Linked DNA regions of Homo sapiens. The protein of the gene in region 2 binds, or shares a complex with, the protein of the main gene of each other region. Each region holds a gene or a part of one and is shown on either strand. Other genes may lie near its edges.

What was found.
Region 1: GSPT2 (region 2) and ETF1 share a complex: the UniProt entries of both Homo sapiens proteins name them as parts of the eRF1-eRF3-GTP ternary complex.

What each region holds. Positions count from the first base shown.
Region 1 is NC_000005.10:138,540,000-138,547,295, reverse strand, and holds the start of ETF1 (eukaryotic peptide chain release factor subunit 1), read left to right. Parts: upstream 1-4,059; 5' UTR 4,060-4,199; intron 4,200-4,352; exon of another isoform or gene 4,353-4,359; 5' UTR 4,360-4,377; coding exon 4,378-4,463; exon of another isoform or gene 4,464-4,662; intron 4,663-5,584; exon of another isoform or gene 5,585-5,733; coding exon of another isoform or gene 5,734-5,777; intron 5,778-7,296. UniProt on the Homo sapiens protein: Component of the eRF1-eRF3-GTP ternary complex, a ternary complex that mediates translation termination in response to the termination codons. The eRF1-eRF3-GTP complex binds to a stop codon in the ribosomal A-site.
Region 2 is NC_000023.11:51,739,019-51,746,668, reverse strand, and holds GSPT2 (eukaryotic peptide chain release factor GTP-binding subunit ERF3B), read right to left. Parts: upstream 3,228-7,650; 5' UTR 3,043-3,227; coding exon 1,156-3,042; 3' UTR 437-1,155; downstream 1-436. UniProt on the Homo sapiens protein: GTPase component of the eRF1-eRF3-GTP ternary complex, a ternary complex that mediates translation termination in response to the termination codons UAA, UAG and UGA.

The DNA.
Region 1 (7,296 bases), on a different chromosome or scaffold from region 2:
TTTTTTTTTTTTGAGAAAGGGTCTTGCTCTGTTACCCAGGCTGGAGTGCAGTGATCACAGCTCACTGTAACCTCAAACTCCTGGGCTCCGGTGATCTTCCTGCCTCAGCCTCCTCAGTAGCTGGCACTAGGGGCACATGCTGCTGTGCCTGGCTGATTTTTTTTTCTTGTTTTTGTAGAGACCAGTTCTCTCTAAGCACAAAGACTTATTTGTGCTTTCAACATCAAAACTTATAACAGGCCTGTAATCCCAACACTTTGGGAGGCTGAGGCAGGTGGGTCACGTGAGGTCAGGAGTTCGAGATCAGCCTGGGCAACATGGTGAAACCCCTATCTCTACTAAACATACAAAAATTAGCCAGGCATCATGGCCTGCGCCTGTGGTCCCAGCTACTAGGGAGGCTGAGGCAGGTGGGTCACGTGGGGTCAGGAGTTCGAGATCAGCCTGGGCAACATGGTGAAACCCCCATCTCTACTAAAAATACAAAAATTAGCCAGGCATCATGGCCCACGCCTGTGGTCCCAGCTACTAGGGAGGCTGAGGTGGAAGGATCGCTTAAGTCCTGGGGTCAAGGTTGCAGTGAGTTATTATCGTACCACTGTACTCCAGCCTGGGCAACAGTGAGACCCTGCCTCAAAAAAAAAAAAGAAAATGAAACAAAAACTTACTTGCCTACTCCCACCTAATTAGGTAGGAACATCACCTATATCCCAATATTTAACTTTGTTACATAATGTTTGAGCTGAGGAGGAAGTTCTGAGATCATAAAGAACAATTCCTTTATTTTTCAGAGAATCTGTGTGCCTAGAGAGGTTATATATTTTGTTCTCACCATTTAGCAGTTTGAAAAATCTGTATCACTTTTATATCACAGAACATTCCTCAACAATGAATCGTCATGGTCCCATTTAAAAAGCCTTGATGCAGGCACTACCATCCGTGCTTCATACATCCCAAACCTCTTCACGTAGATAGTTATCCCAGCCTTTGCCTCTAATGCACTGATTTCTAATTCTAAATGCAGAGATGGTGAATTTGCAGCAACTAGGCAAGGAGCTTTTGGGGCTACCTGGGCCTGCAATTGTCTAAGAAATAAGTTTTAAGAATTCAGAGGCTGAAAACAGCAATCCTACTTGGGATGTCGTCATGCTTACTTCAGCCTGAATCACACAGAAGAAAGCCTTCAAGCATGGACCTGAAGCAATGCTGTAAACACAAACATCAAAAGGAAGAGGAGGCCAGGTGTGGTGGCTCACGCATGTAATCCCAGCACTTTGGGAAGCGGAGGCAGGTGGATCACCTGAGGTCAGGAATTCAAGATCAGCCTGGCCAACATGGTGAAACCCTGTCTCTGCTAAAAAAAAAATAAAAAATAAAAAATACAAAAACTGGCCCGGCATGGTGGTTCACGCCTGTAATCCCAGCACTTTGGGAGGCCGAGGCAGGCAGATCACGAGGTCAGGAGATCGAGACCATCCTGGCTAACACGGTGAAACCCCGACTCTAATAAAAATACAAAAAATTAGCTGGGCATGGTGGCACCCGCCTGTAGTCCCAGCTACTCAGGAGGCTGCCGCAGAAGAATCGCTTGAACCCGGGATGTGGAGGTTGCAGTGAGCCAAGATCGTGCCACTGCACTCCAACCTGGGCGACAAAGGGAGACTCCGTCTTTAAAAAAAAAAAAAAAAAGAACAGGAAGGGTAGAGTAGGGCAATCTAATATAGAAAGGAGGAACCAGGGCAAGAGGAATGAAGGAAAACCTTGGACACAGTTGATTCCTAGTCAGTAAGCAGTGTTTATGACTAAGAAGACCCCTCCGTTCACTACTAAACACAGTGAATGACACACACACAGCAGGAGTACAATATTATATAACAAATAAACATATGCCAAAAACTACAAAATGGAACCCAAAGAAGAGGTTCCAACCTGAGATTCATTTCCTGGGGGACAGAAGTATGACCGTGTCCCCACCCTATGAAAATACAGGTAATGGGGTCACTGTATAATACACTGGACTCCAAAAATGGAGTCGGGAAGCCATAAACTAGCTGTGGACTCTGAGCAGATCCCTTTCACTTTTCTTTGCCTCAGTTTCCCCATGTATGAAATGGAGGTCATACCCCCATCTTCAAAGTGTGGACACAGTTTATAACACATGCAAAAAGTATTCAAAAACCATACAAATGAAAGCGCATGACGGACATCCCTACTTACATGTCTCATAAGCAATCTCAAACTTAACAGGCCCAAGATGAAATTCTCAATCATCCCCCAACACCTACTCCTCACCTTTCCCACCTCAGTAAATGTCACCACTTCAGTACTCTGGGAACCATTCTTGGTTTTCCTCAACCAATCCATCATCCAGTCCTATTCACTTTTTTTTTTTCCTCGAGACAAGGTCTCGCTCTGTCACCCAGGCTGGAGTGTAGTGGTGTGATCTCAGCTCACTGCAGCCTCGAATTCCTCGGCTCAAGGGTTTCTCCCACCTCAGCCTCCCAAGCAGCTGGGACTACAGGCGCGGGCCACCACACCAGGCTAATATTTTGTAATTTTGTAGAGACGGAATCTTGCCATGTTGCCCAGGCTGCTCGCAAACTCCTGGGCTCAAGCGATCCTCCCCTTTGGCCTCCCAAAGTGCTGGGATTACAGCCGTGGGCCACTGCACCAGGCCCTTCATTCACTTCTATCTGCACTGTCACCACCCTAATGTAAGCGAAAATCATCTCTCACATGATAATGAAGCAGCCAAAATGGTCTCTGGGCTTCTCCTGTACTCTCTCCAGTCCACACCAGGGCTCTAAACCCTTTAAACTACCCACTGTTCTTGAAAGAAACCAAACTTCTGAATCTGGCTTAAAAGACCCTACATGACCTCTTCCCCTGCTGCTCCCTCAAACCACTCTCCCCGTCCCTGACCTTGTGCCAGCACACTGGCGTTTCTGTAGTTCTCAACTGTATTCTGTTTCCTCCTGACAAACTCTTAATCATCCTTTGGGTCTCATTTCAGAGCTGGGTCCCCGCCATACACTCTCAGAGCACCCTGAAGTACTTAAGCATTTGTGTAATTATTTTATTACAAAAAGTATAAAATCACAAACTTAAAAACCCAATCGACTATAAGCTCCATAAGGGTAAGTACTGTCATCTGTTTGGTTCACCTCTGTATCCCCAGGAAAACAGGGTCCAGCACACGGTCTGGGCTCAATATTTGAACCCAGACGAGGTGAGGGGGGACAAAGTAGCCACCTAAAAATCCTAACTCAAAAAGATAAAGTTCTAACCGTATGTGGATGCCCATTTTGTTTCAACTCTCTCCACCCCCATTCTCAACGGCTCAGGCCAAATCATACATGGGACCAGATACCTCAGGTCTCCAAGCTCAGGCAGCCCCCGCTGTCTTCCACCCCATAAAGTTCTAAGTCCAAAGTGAGCCCGTCCTAGCTCTGGGGCGAGAGAAAACAGGCCTCTTTCGCCCCTGCAGGTGAGGGTCCCGGACCGCCCGGAGGCAGGTTCCTCATCCAGACCTACTGGCCAGGACTCCTCCACACTATTCCGTGCAGCCATGACGCACGCAGACCGCAGCACTTCGTCAGCGAAGAAGCCGCTGAGCGCGAGGCGCTTCTTCGCGGCTTCTCAAGCACCGTTCAAACCGCGCGTCGGGCCCAAGTGCCTAGCTTCGAGTCGCAAAGCCTCAGATGTCCACCCTATTCAAGGAGAATGGACTGAAAAGACGACGACCCCGGTCCTCTCTCTTTAAGAACCACCCCCATTCGAGCCTGACGGGGGCTCTCAGTAAACTCGCGAGAGCCACCGGCTTCCGCCCGCTTCCTCCTCTCGCCTTGCCGGGCCGGAAGAAAGGTGGCACCTCCCACCCCCCAGCCTTACCTCACAAGGCGGCGCGGACCCAGCTGCAGCCAATCGGCGGGCTCATTGTAGGCTGCGGGGCAGAGAGCCAATGAGAAGTCGCGGCGGACGCCCAGCTTCTCCTCACTCGCACCGGCCCCCTCCCTTCCGCCTGCCGCCTTCCACTCCGCCCCTGGCGGAGGAAGTGATGTCACAGGCCCCATGTGAGCGGATTGCAACACATGCAGCTGCCTGGAGAGAGGGAGCCGGTGTCCTACGTCAGAGCCGCCGCCGCCGCGGAGCCGCCGCCGGGGAGGAGCAGCCGCTGCCGCCCAGGACTGGGCCCTTAGGTAAGGCACAGGGAGGGAAAGGCCGGTGACCTTTGTGGCGAGCTGCACCGGACGGGAGGAGAGGGCCTCTGGGGGATGGCGAGGAAGGGGGCCGCTCTGCCCCAGCGGCGGCGCTAACTCTGTGGTCTTGGTGTCTCCGGGCCCCGCCGGGCCGCTCTAGGGAGGAGGAGGCGAGAAGATGGCGGACGACCCCAGTGCTGCCGACAGGAACGTGGAGATCTGGAAGATCAAGAAGCTCATTAAGAGCTTGGAGGCGGCCCGCGGGTGAGCGCCGCGTCCGGCACCCTCCGTGCCCTCTTGGTTCCCGGACCCCTCAGGATGGACGCCCCCGCGCCGCATGGCCGGATGAGGAGAACCAGGCACTAGCCAACTCCCGCCTTCTGGATCTCTGGGTAGTAGCCCCTGACCCAGGGGCGAGGGTCGGCGCGGTTGGCCCGAGAAGGGGTCCTTTCCCCGCATGGGGGTAAGGGGCCCGCGCTCCCCGGTTTAGATCACTCGGCCCCCCTCGTGGTAGGCCACCGCTACTTTTGCACCTCTCCCGGGCCCTTAAGTCCAGGTCCTCCCTCTTCGGGCTCCAGGTGCTGCCACCCGACTCGGGTGCTATTGTGGCAAAGTGTTCGGCCTTCCTTTCCCAGGGCCCTTCCCTGATTTCCTCTTCTCCCTTCATTTCTCAGCCAGGCCTCATTAAAATGGCCTCTCCCTTCTGGGCTTCTGAGACCCGGGTGGGTGAAGTTTGGATGGGACGGGAAGCAGAGGTGGCCAGGGACAGCTTCTTTCTGATTCCTGATTTCTCTGGGTCTTCCACCTGTCCCAAGATGACTTCTCCCAAGTCCTCTAATTACCCCGGAGCTTCCTGGTTTTAGCTGTTCCAGGACCCACCTATAAACTGAAAATGCCAACGTACGCGCGATGTGAGGGGTGCTGGGTAGGTTTTGGTTAATGAATCTGCATGTGTATGTCCAGGAGAAATACGGGTTAGGGGGCCGTTTGATAGGAATCATAACTACAGAGTCCCTGCTGGCATTTCTCTGAAACTTGTGGGGATATCGCTGTAGAGAGGCGCCTGATGTGCTTGATGCTTGTTGAGTGAGATTCATAATTGAATTAAATGGGCTTTGAGTCTTGTACATTTTGATAAGAAACTGTAGGTGTGTCCATTGGGGGGAGAGTAGGCTAGATTAAAATTAGCTGTGTGTGTGTGTTTTCTTTTTTTTTTAACGTTGTTCGTTTGAGGAAGGTGTGCCAGGGGTATTCCTGTTTCTTTTATTACTTTATTTTGTTCCTTTCCCAGTCATAGAAACTTTTTACTTACAGGAAGTGCCCCCCCCCCCAAAAAAAAGTGTTTGGAACATTATTACATACTTGTATGTCTGAGCATTCTTAGAATAGTAGAATGGCCTGCCTCAGGCCATGTGAAAAGTTGATTTCAGCACAAGAATTTGACATTCTGGTTTCCAGCCCAGGATTGTCATTTATGGGTAGATTTGCAATTTTAGAATGACAGCCCCTCCAAGCTCTTCATTATTACTGTTATATGAAACAGGATGTGCTTAATTGTACTGAAGGCCCAATTCACAGGTTGGTTTTACTAGTGTTTTGTTCTTAATAAATTAGGGACAGTTCTGTTTGGAATGAGGCTTCTAAAAGTTTGGCCCCATTCAGTGACGGGCTTGTGCTCACTCCTTCGGTTTACTGGAGAAACGTTAGTTTAATATGAATCGAAGACAGCGGCTTGTTAGTCCTTAGGTTTTTCTTTGAATTCAATAGAATATCCAGACCTTCTTAATGATCTTACAGGAACTTGTGCCGTATGATAGAGTGACCAGTTATTCCCAAAATGTGAGAATACTGTACAGAAAGGGTAACATAGGTCACGACCCATTATGTTGCACTACCAAGAATTAGCCAGGTTCTTTTGTTTCAGTAGGATCTTGTTTTGTTACTTGAAGCCTTCAATCCAGTATTGCATTTTATAGATTGCTGTTGTTGCAGTATTGTATATAGGTGGATGTGACCTCTGGATTTGTTCTTACTGCTTTCAGTAGCAGGCAGGTTTACACATTTTAATTTGCATACGTTATATTCTCTGAAACAGTCCAAAAAATTAAATCATGACTATAATTTGCCTGTTTGAATGAAGTAACATTGAAGATGACATTGCTTAATAAGTAACAGCATTCCTTTCTACTGCTTAATGAAGGAAACTCATTCTTAAATTTGTTCTACCCATGTTACCTAGCCACTAGAAACTTTTAAGCGCCTCTTTAAGGCTTTTGAAGGCTTTACCTCTTTGTTTAGCAAAGTTCAGTAAAGTTTAAAGCATGCTAAAAATGAAGTTATAAGACACAACTTGTATTTCAAGTTGTTGAGTTTGGATATTTCAGACATGATTAAGCTGTCTAAAATAGCTGGAGGACCTTCCGCTACACATTGTGGTTAATAATCATGTCCTACTTTGCTTTTAATCAGGATTTGGTTGCATCTTGATCCCATGGAAATTTAAAATCTTGGCCATCTCTGAGTATTGGTAAGGGAGTCAGAAGATTCCCCAGTATATACCAGTTTTTGGAGGTGGGAATATTTTCATTGCCAACTTGTGTTAAAGTCAGACTCTAGATTTTCATAGATAGGGTACAGTGGAAAATGTTATTCCTACTTTACCTAGTGATAAAATATCTTTAGAAGAATTGTAATGGGCTTTAAAGACTTAAGTGGATGGCAAAATGAATCTGTATTTGCTGATGTTTTGGGGATACTCTGGTTTTCAGGAGGAAACTGAGGTTTTCAGGCATGGTTATTAGGACAAGGTAGTGAGACTTAGTGGTTGAGTAACAGTATTGTTTTGGAAATGAAAAAGCCCTTTCCTCCCCTTAGCAGTGTAGAATTCTAGGCATAGGAATCATGGATTTGTTTTTAACAGTAGTTATTAAAATATGCTAGAATAAGAGTGATTTTGAAATTAAGATAATCCTATGTGGTTATCTCTTGATATATGACCCAAATTTAATGTAGCTTGAAAAAGGAACCACCTGCAAAATGGGCTCACTAACTACATCTGAATAAAGGGAAGTATGTTGGCAAAATAATTTATTAAGCA
Region 2 (7,650 bases):
TTGTAAACCTATGGTCCAAATCTCCTATAATTTGGCCATGCTTAACGTGATGGGACCTGATGGAATACAGTAAGTCCTCACTTAACATAGTCCACTGGTTCTTGGAAATTGTGACTTCAAGTGAAATAACATCTAACAAAATGAATTTTTCCCCTTATCAATGTCATAACTAAACAACATTGAACAATGTCATAACTAAACAACATTGAACAATGTCATAACTAAACAACATTGAACAAGGTCATAACAACATTGAACAATGTCATAACAACATTGAACAATGTCATAACAACATTGAACAATGTCATACATTGTGCATTGTTGTACGATGTACACCTGCTGTACATTGTTTTGCTTAATGTTGTAGTCTTCAAGAACCTATGGATAATGTTACATGAACTACTGCTATACAAATAAAGACGGCCTGAGCCTTTCATTTTCAAATCACAAGTGGGGAAGCAGAAGAGCTCCTTTATTGACTGGACTTGGACAGAGAAAACAAAGCCCACTGGGAAGAGCCTTAACATACGTTTTTTTCTCAAAATTAAAATTATTCCTTTAATACACACTTATGCATTGTTTGTAAATTCCTCACTTAAAACAGTAAGTGGTGAAGAGTTTTTAAGTTTTTAAGTGATAGAACATATTCAACTATTTGAGAAAGTAATAAAGCTAATTGAATAGCATTACATAATGACATTTAAACATTATTCAAAAGCATTTCAAATAACCGAAGAGTTTCAAATGGAGTATTTTATTCACATGTTAGTTATCATTTTAACACACACACAAACACTGACACACTCTGGTTTGCGTGGAACAAGGGTGGTCTAAATATCCTAAAAGAAAATGAAAAATTAAAGTACATTAATTTTTCATTACTGTAGGCAATTACGTCCACATCACTTACAAAGCTATTACTGATATTGTCCAAGGAAGCAGAGTGGTACAGAGGAAGGAAACTTGAGGGTAAATTCATCAGTGACATAACAGATCTCAACATGAGAAAGCTGACAAAACATGAATTTTTGCTGTGAAATTTCTCTTTGCAAAATATGAAGAAAAGTCAATCAATGGGCAGTAAATAAGAGTAGGTGGTGAACTTTTGCTGTCAATTCTCCTCACAGTATCTTGCAGAGGCATCAAGAAAATTGCTTAGTCCTTCTCTGGGACCAATTTCAGAACTTTTCCAATTGCAATGGTCTTACCCTCATCTCTTAAAGTAAAACGACCCATCTGAGGAAAATCTTTGAACGTCTCGAGGCAGATGGTTCCTGCTGTCCTTAAACGAGCAATGCATACTTGATCTTGTTTCACGAAGCGGGGTCGTGTCTTACTTTTTTCTCCTGATTTTTTGTCTACCAAGGAGATTAACGCTGTTATCTCAACTTCCTCAATACAAGTATGAATGTGCAGCACCGCATTATAACCTGGGCAGATGATGGATTTGTGCTCAATAATCACTATCTGAACATCAAACGTGCGTCCAGAATGGCAGAGGTTACTAGGATCACAAAGTATGAATCCTGGAAGAATCTCTTCTTCTTCAATTCCCTTCAGTCTGATTTTGAGGTTTTCACCTGGGGCTACAAAATCAGTTTCAGTATCATCAGAAAGTATTCCAAGAACTTCTACATTGTGCTTGTTTGGCATCATCACGAGCTGCTGGCCTTTAAAAATGGACCCGGATTCCAGCTTTCCCAGGACCACAGTGCCCATATCTTTGTACTTATCCACAATTGGCAGTCTTATTGGTCCATCAATTGATCTGTTGAAGTTTGGCAAGTTATCCAAATACGGAATAAATGGTAATCCAGTGTACCAAGGGCAGAAATCTGACTGCTCTTTAATATTTGCTCCGGTCAGTCCTGAGCAGGGCATAAAGTGAATGTCCTTTTTTGGACTGAAGCCTACTTTTTTCAAAAAGGGCACCAGTTTTTCTTTACATTCTTCATATCTCTCGATGCTCCAATTTACTGTGGGATCATCCATCTTATTAATAAGCACTATTAAATGTTTTACCCCTGCCGTTTTTGCCAACATCGCATGTTCTCTTGTCTGTCCACCTTTTTCAAATCCAGTTTCAAACTCTCCTTTCCTGGCAGAGATGACCAGCACAGCCAAATCAGCTTGAGAAGCACCACCAATCATATTTGGGACAAAACTCTTGTGGCCAGGGGCATCTAAAATTGTGAAATGTTTCCTTTCTGTTTCAAAATAGGCACGACCCACTTCGACTGTTTTACCCTTGTCTCGTTCCTCCTGATTTGTATCTAAGGCCCAGGACAAATACCAGGTTTCTCTGTTTTTTTCCTTAGCTTCTCTTTCATATTTCTCCAGTGTTCTTTTGTCAACCATTCCAGTCAAAAACATTATCTGTCCTCCGATGGTTGACTTGCCAGCGTCTACATGGCCAATGAATACTACATTTACGTGTTCTTTCTTAGGTGCACCTGAGGGTACGATCACAGATTTGGATTTTCTTATTTCCTCTTTTTCCTCCATCATTTCCTGGCCACTTTCTTCTGGGGGCCCTGAATCTCCCGAGGAACCACCCCCAGGCTCGGCTTCACTTACTTCTTTACTGTGCTCCCATGATTCTTCTAGGGCCATTTCCACCTCTCCATTTTCTACAACAGGTTCTGAAAGTTCCATGGTAACGGCTGAATTGGAACCTTCAAGCGACACTAACGGTTCCTCTCGGGAAGGTTCCACAGGTGCCCCCCGTCCCATCCTTTTACCTTGAGGGTATCCCGCGCCGGTGCAGGTTTCATCGTTGCTGCCGGAGCCGGCCGGGAGGGTGGGCGGCTGAGTCGGGCCCCGCAGGAAGGACGGCACGAACTCCGCGGCGTGTACGTTAGGCACGAAGGGCTTGGCGTTGACGTTGAGCTTACGGCTGAAAGCCGAGCTGAGGGGCTCGCGCTGGGCCTCGGCCACCGCAGAGGAGACTCCATCCCCGCTCGGGGCCGACCCCGGGGATTCCATGTCCACCTGGTCCCAGCAATCGGGCGCCGAGTCGCTGCTGCTGCTGCCCGAATCCATGGTCTCGGAACTTGCTGTGTGGCAGTGAGGGAGCGGGCTCAACAGGCCAGAAGAGCGGGCTCCGCCGGCGGGGTTAAGGCAGCAAGAGCGAAGGGCCAAGGGGTAGCGACACGAACCTTAGCTGCACCGCGGAGGCAGCTAAGCGCCGATGCTGCATTCGCAACTGCGGCGGCAGCAGCAGATATGGCGGCTCAACACTCTCCTCTTGTGTGTGAGCGGATCTCCTCCCCCAAACCCCAACCACTTCCGACTCCTCCACCCCCGACCCAACGCCGGGCGTGGATTGACCCCTCGCTGCTATCCGTACGCTTGGCTTCCTTACTTCTTCTTAGCCACGGGCTAAGTCCAAAAGTATTATTTTTTAAAACGAAAATTTCCATTCACTTTTTTGTTCACACAGTCTGGCAGAGCAATTTGACCACAATCTGATGATTAAACCTAGACAGGAACACATGGTATACAATTCTACCAAAAGATTCAAGTAAAAGTGATCATTTCTATTGAACAAATGGGAGGCAAGATAAGGGTTAACTATACAGAAATTCAGAAACCCAGCAACTGAAGGGAGAGGCAAGGAATGGGTAGGGAGGGACTCATGAAATATATGAGTCTGTAGCCGAACTTAGGAAATGCAACTTAAGATCACTCATTAATTTGAAATCCACAGGCCTTTTGATTTTCCCTTTCCAGTGGGCCCCCATAAGCCTGTAACTTCTGCTGATGGCTTCTATAGTTTAAGGATAGGGTTACAACTTCTTTTCATGTTAAGCACCCTGGCTGTCTGAGGGGAGAGAATTTCCAAGGAGATCCTTGTTCCAGTGAAGCTTCCAGTCACTTCATATGCAGATGCCTGCACAATGGCTGGCCTGCCATTCAATGGTGGATCACGTAGACAAGCACAGGACTCAGATCACTCTTGTTTTACCAACCAACTGAATTCTGGGTTTATCTGCACTACTCCCCAGCACCTCCCTAGTACATCCTGCATCCACAGGCCTCGGGTTTTCCTGCTTCATTCCGGGGGGCCTGGAATCCTACTCACTGCACTGGCTTTGCTCTAAGAAACAATCAGTGTCATGTTGAACCCCTCTACAGTTTATGGTAATGAGACAGGGCTGTAGGTGTCAGCCTAATTAAACCAATTAAGACTTCTGAGATGAACAAAGACCTTAAGACCCTAATCAAAAGAATCTCACTCTCAGAAAGTGTTAACAGTTGAGTCAAAGCCTCAGCGACCTTGTTTGTAAATTAATTTAGTGCAAACTGACATAGAAAATACAAACTTATTCTCTGAATCTGTTTTTAGTCTTCATGTACTCAAATCTGTCACCTTTTGCTTTTATGAATTCAGGTTTTGTGACATACCTAGAAAGACTATTCAGTCCAAACAATCTGCTTAGTACAAGATGGTGTCACATAGATGGATTTATTTTTTTATTTTGAGACAAAGTTTCACTTTTGTTGCCCAGGCTGGAGTGCAGTGGCATGATCTCAGCTCACTGCAACTTCTGCCTCCTGGGTTCAAGCAATTCTCCTGCCTCAGCTTCCTGAGTAGCTGGGATTACAGGCGTCCGCCACCAAGCTCAGCTAATTTTTCTTAATATATATTTTTAGTAGAGACAGGGTTTCACCATGTTGGCCAGACTGGTCTTGAACTCCTGACCTCAGGTGATCCACCTGCCTCGGCCTCCCAAAGTGCTGGGATTACAGGCATGAGCCACCACGCCTGGCCTCATAGTTGGATATTTAAATCCAACAACAAAGCAAAATATTATAAAACCAAGTACCTGATTATAACTTGAGAATTGTGTTCTCCAGACTTTAGGGGTAGGAAAAAAGACAGACTTGGACCCTTGATGTTTTCACTCTGGGGCTGCCACTATTATACTAGCTCTGTACTGTTTCCACACCTTCATTCTTTTTGCCTCCGGTTATGGATTAATTATTTACAGTGACATAAAGAGAATGTGCACACCTATTCACAATAAACAGGAAGAACTGAGAGGTAGAATGTGCAGAGAGACCCTCCACACAAGTGCTGGAGCCTTCTTGGACATTGTGTGAACCTAGAATGGACATTTCTGGGAGAACCTGTCAAGGTTTTGGCAGCCGTGTTCACATAAGGTAATTCATGCAAGGAAGCAGGAGACATCTGGGATTTTTCCTTCACCTGGGTCGAATGCATTGGTCATGAACATATTGGTATGACTGCTACTTAGTGATATCTCAGAGAACAGAGGATACTTCACTGTTAGAACGATAAAGGAGAAGTCAGAAATAGTCTGTGAATGTCCTCATAATCCATCATTCATGAGGTTCCAGGGGAGGCAGTTCAACGCAAGAGAGAGAAGCACTGACCAGATTGTGTCCAGAGAGATTGGCCTTGGACAAAAATCTTTTGGTTTGTGTGATGGGATGCTTGTCTCCAGTCTTTCTGCCTAAGAGTTCATCAGTAAATGAGAGAATTTTCCTCACCAAAGAGGAAAATTTAAAAAAGAGTGTAGGTGATATCCAACCATTGCTTAATTCAATCTTTTTCCTCCTTTAAAAATCTTTTTTATTGTAAAATATAGCACAAACACAGAAAGTCACATTAAAAATTATAGGTTATTGACTTATGAGAAAGGAAACACACTTGTAACAACCATCCAAGTCAAGAGAAATTTGCCAGCCAGCCCAGAAGGCTTCCTTGTGCCCTGTTCAATCACAAATGACTTCCTCCACCTCTCAATGTAACTGCTATTGTGACATTTATGGTAATAACCTATACGATTTTCCGTATAGTTTTATTACACAAATGTGTACACTCAGACACTACAGTTCAATTTGGCCTGCTTTTTTGATATTTCTTTTAAGTCTTTTTTATCTCTGGATACCCAACCTATCTTCCCCTTTTTCATGTCATTTATTTATTGAGGAAAGTGGATGATGTGACTGGTAGAGAGGTTTTTTTGTTTGTTTTTTTGTTTTTTTACATTCTCAGCTTTGCTGACTGTATGTCTATGGTAGAGTTTAGAATATTCCTTTGTTCTCTGTATTTCCTGTTTATCAATAATTAAATCTATGAGCTTGATCAGATTCAGGTGCAATTTTTTAACAAGAATACTTCAAGGGAATTTTGATTATTTCCATCAAGAGGCACATGAGGTCGGGTTGTGACTCTTTTTACAGTTAGCCACAATTATTGATACTTGTTTAGAGACATATCATTAGAGGTTGCAAAATTGTGATATTGCACTTCTGTCATTCTTTCTGTTTTTATTAACTGGAGTGCTGTTCCAAAAAATTTACCTTCAACAGTTTTGTTACTTTCAGATATAGATTGCAAAGGAAATGCAGGAAAAGTGCTTGATTCTTTCGTGTTATTTAGGAGCTTTAAAAAATAATGAGTTGGTTCCCTAGAATCCTACACACATGACAAATAAGGATTTTAAAAGGGATAATTGTGAATTATTGGATTTACATATATTTGAGGCATTTTGATAAATTTTGCTTACTATACTTATTGATGATCATTTGCCAGTGCCTCTTCTGGTTGAGTTCTGAACACTTTTGAGACTATGCTAGTAGTCCTTGATGGTTTATTTATTATATGGTTTGACAAGATGTACCAGACCAATTATACAAATGTTTGCCAAACCAGGAATACTGGTTCTCAATGATAACATGGAAAGATAGATAGAATTAGAAAATAAAATAATTACTCATTTGATTTATCCCACCTACACATATAGTTGTCTCAGTACCACCACCATCAATATGATTTAAAATAAACAGATTTTTTCTTTGCATAAATGCTCTCTCTATTCTCTGCCTGTATTTCATAGTTGAATTGTATCTATCTGATAGTCAATTTTATTGAGTGCTTCCTAAGCGTAGATCATATTTCAATTATTTTATATGGATTCTCTCATTTAATTTTCCCTATCATCCTTTGAAGAAGGTAATCTTATCACTGTTTTACAGATAAGAAAATAACATTCAGAGAGGCCAGGGATTACTCAACGTCACATAGCTAGTAAATAGCGGACTTGGAGTTCAAACACAGACAATATGATTCTAAGACCACACTGGCTTGTATCATCTATTATATATATATATAAAGAAAGGAATAGGGAGATTTGGCAGAGTTAAATCACAAATAGAGGAAGAAGGTTAAATCTTAGATTATCTGGAAAGAATGGAAATATAATAAATTTAAGAGAGAAAGGATAATTCACTGTAGTTCTTTCATGAGGATTTGTGTTTCTTTCCTGAAGTAGGAGACTGGAAATTGTGAAGGAAGACTAAAATAAGAAAAATGATGAATAGGGGAAGATTTATAATAGGCCCTTATGGTATGGGGGAGGTGGCTGATTTGGGAGTAATAAAATTATTTTTTAAAGAATTTAGGTAAACCAAAACAGCACTAGACTGGAGGACATAATATGTTTAGGTTTTGAGATTCCTCTCTTTCCCCATCTTACATCTAGCATCACTGAGCAACTTGGGGCACAAGCAGAGTCTTAAGTTTCATCCAGGTTTAGGTAACAGTGGTGTATGGTAGGCTGAAAGGAGGAGAACAGAAAAATATTGAGGAGCTAGTGAACATAGAGTTAAGAACACTGT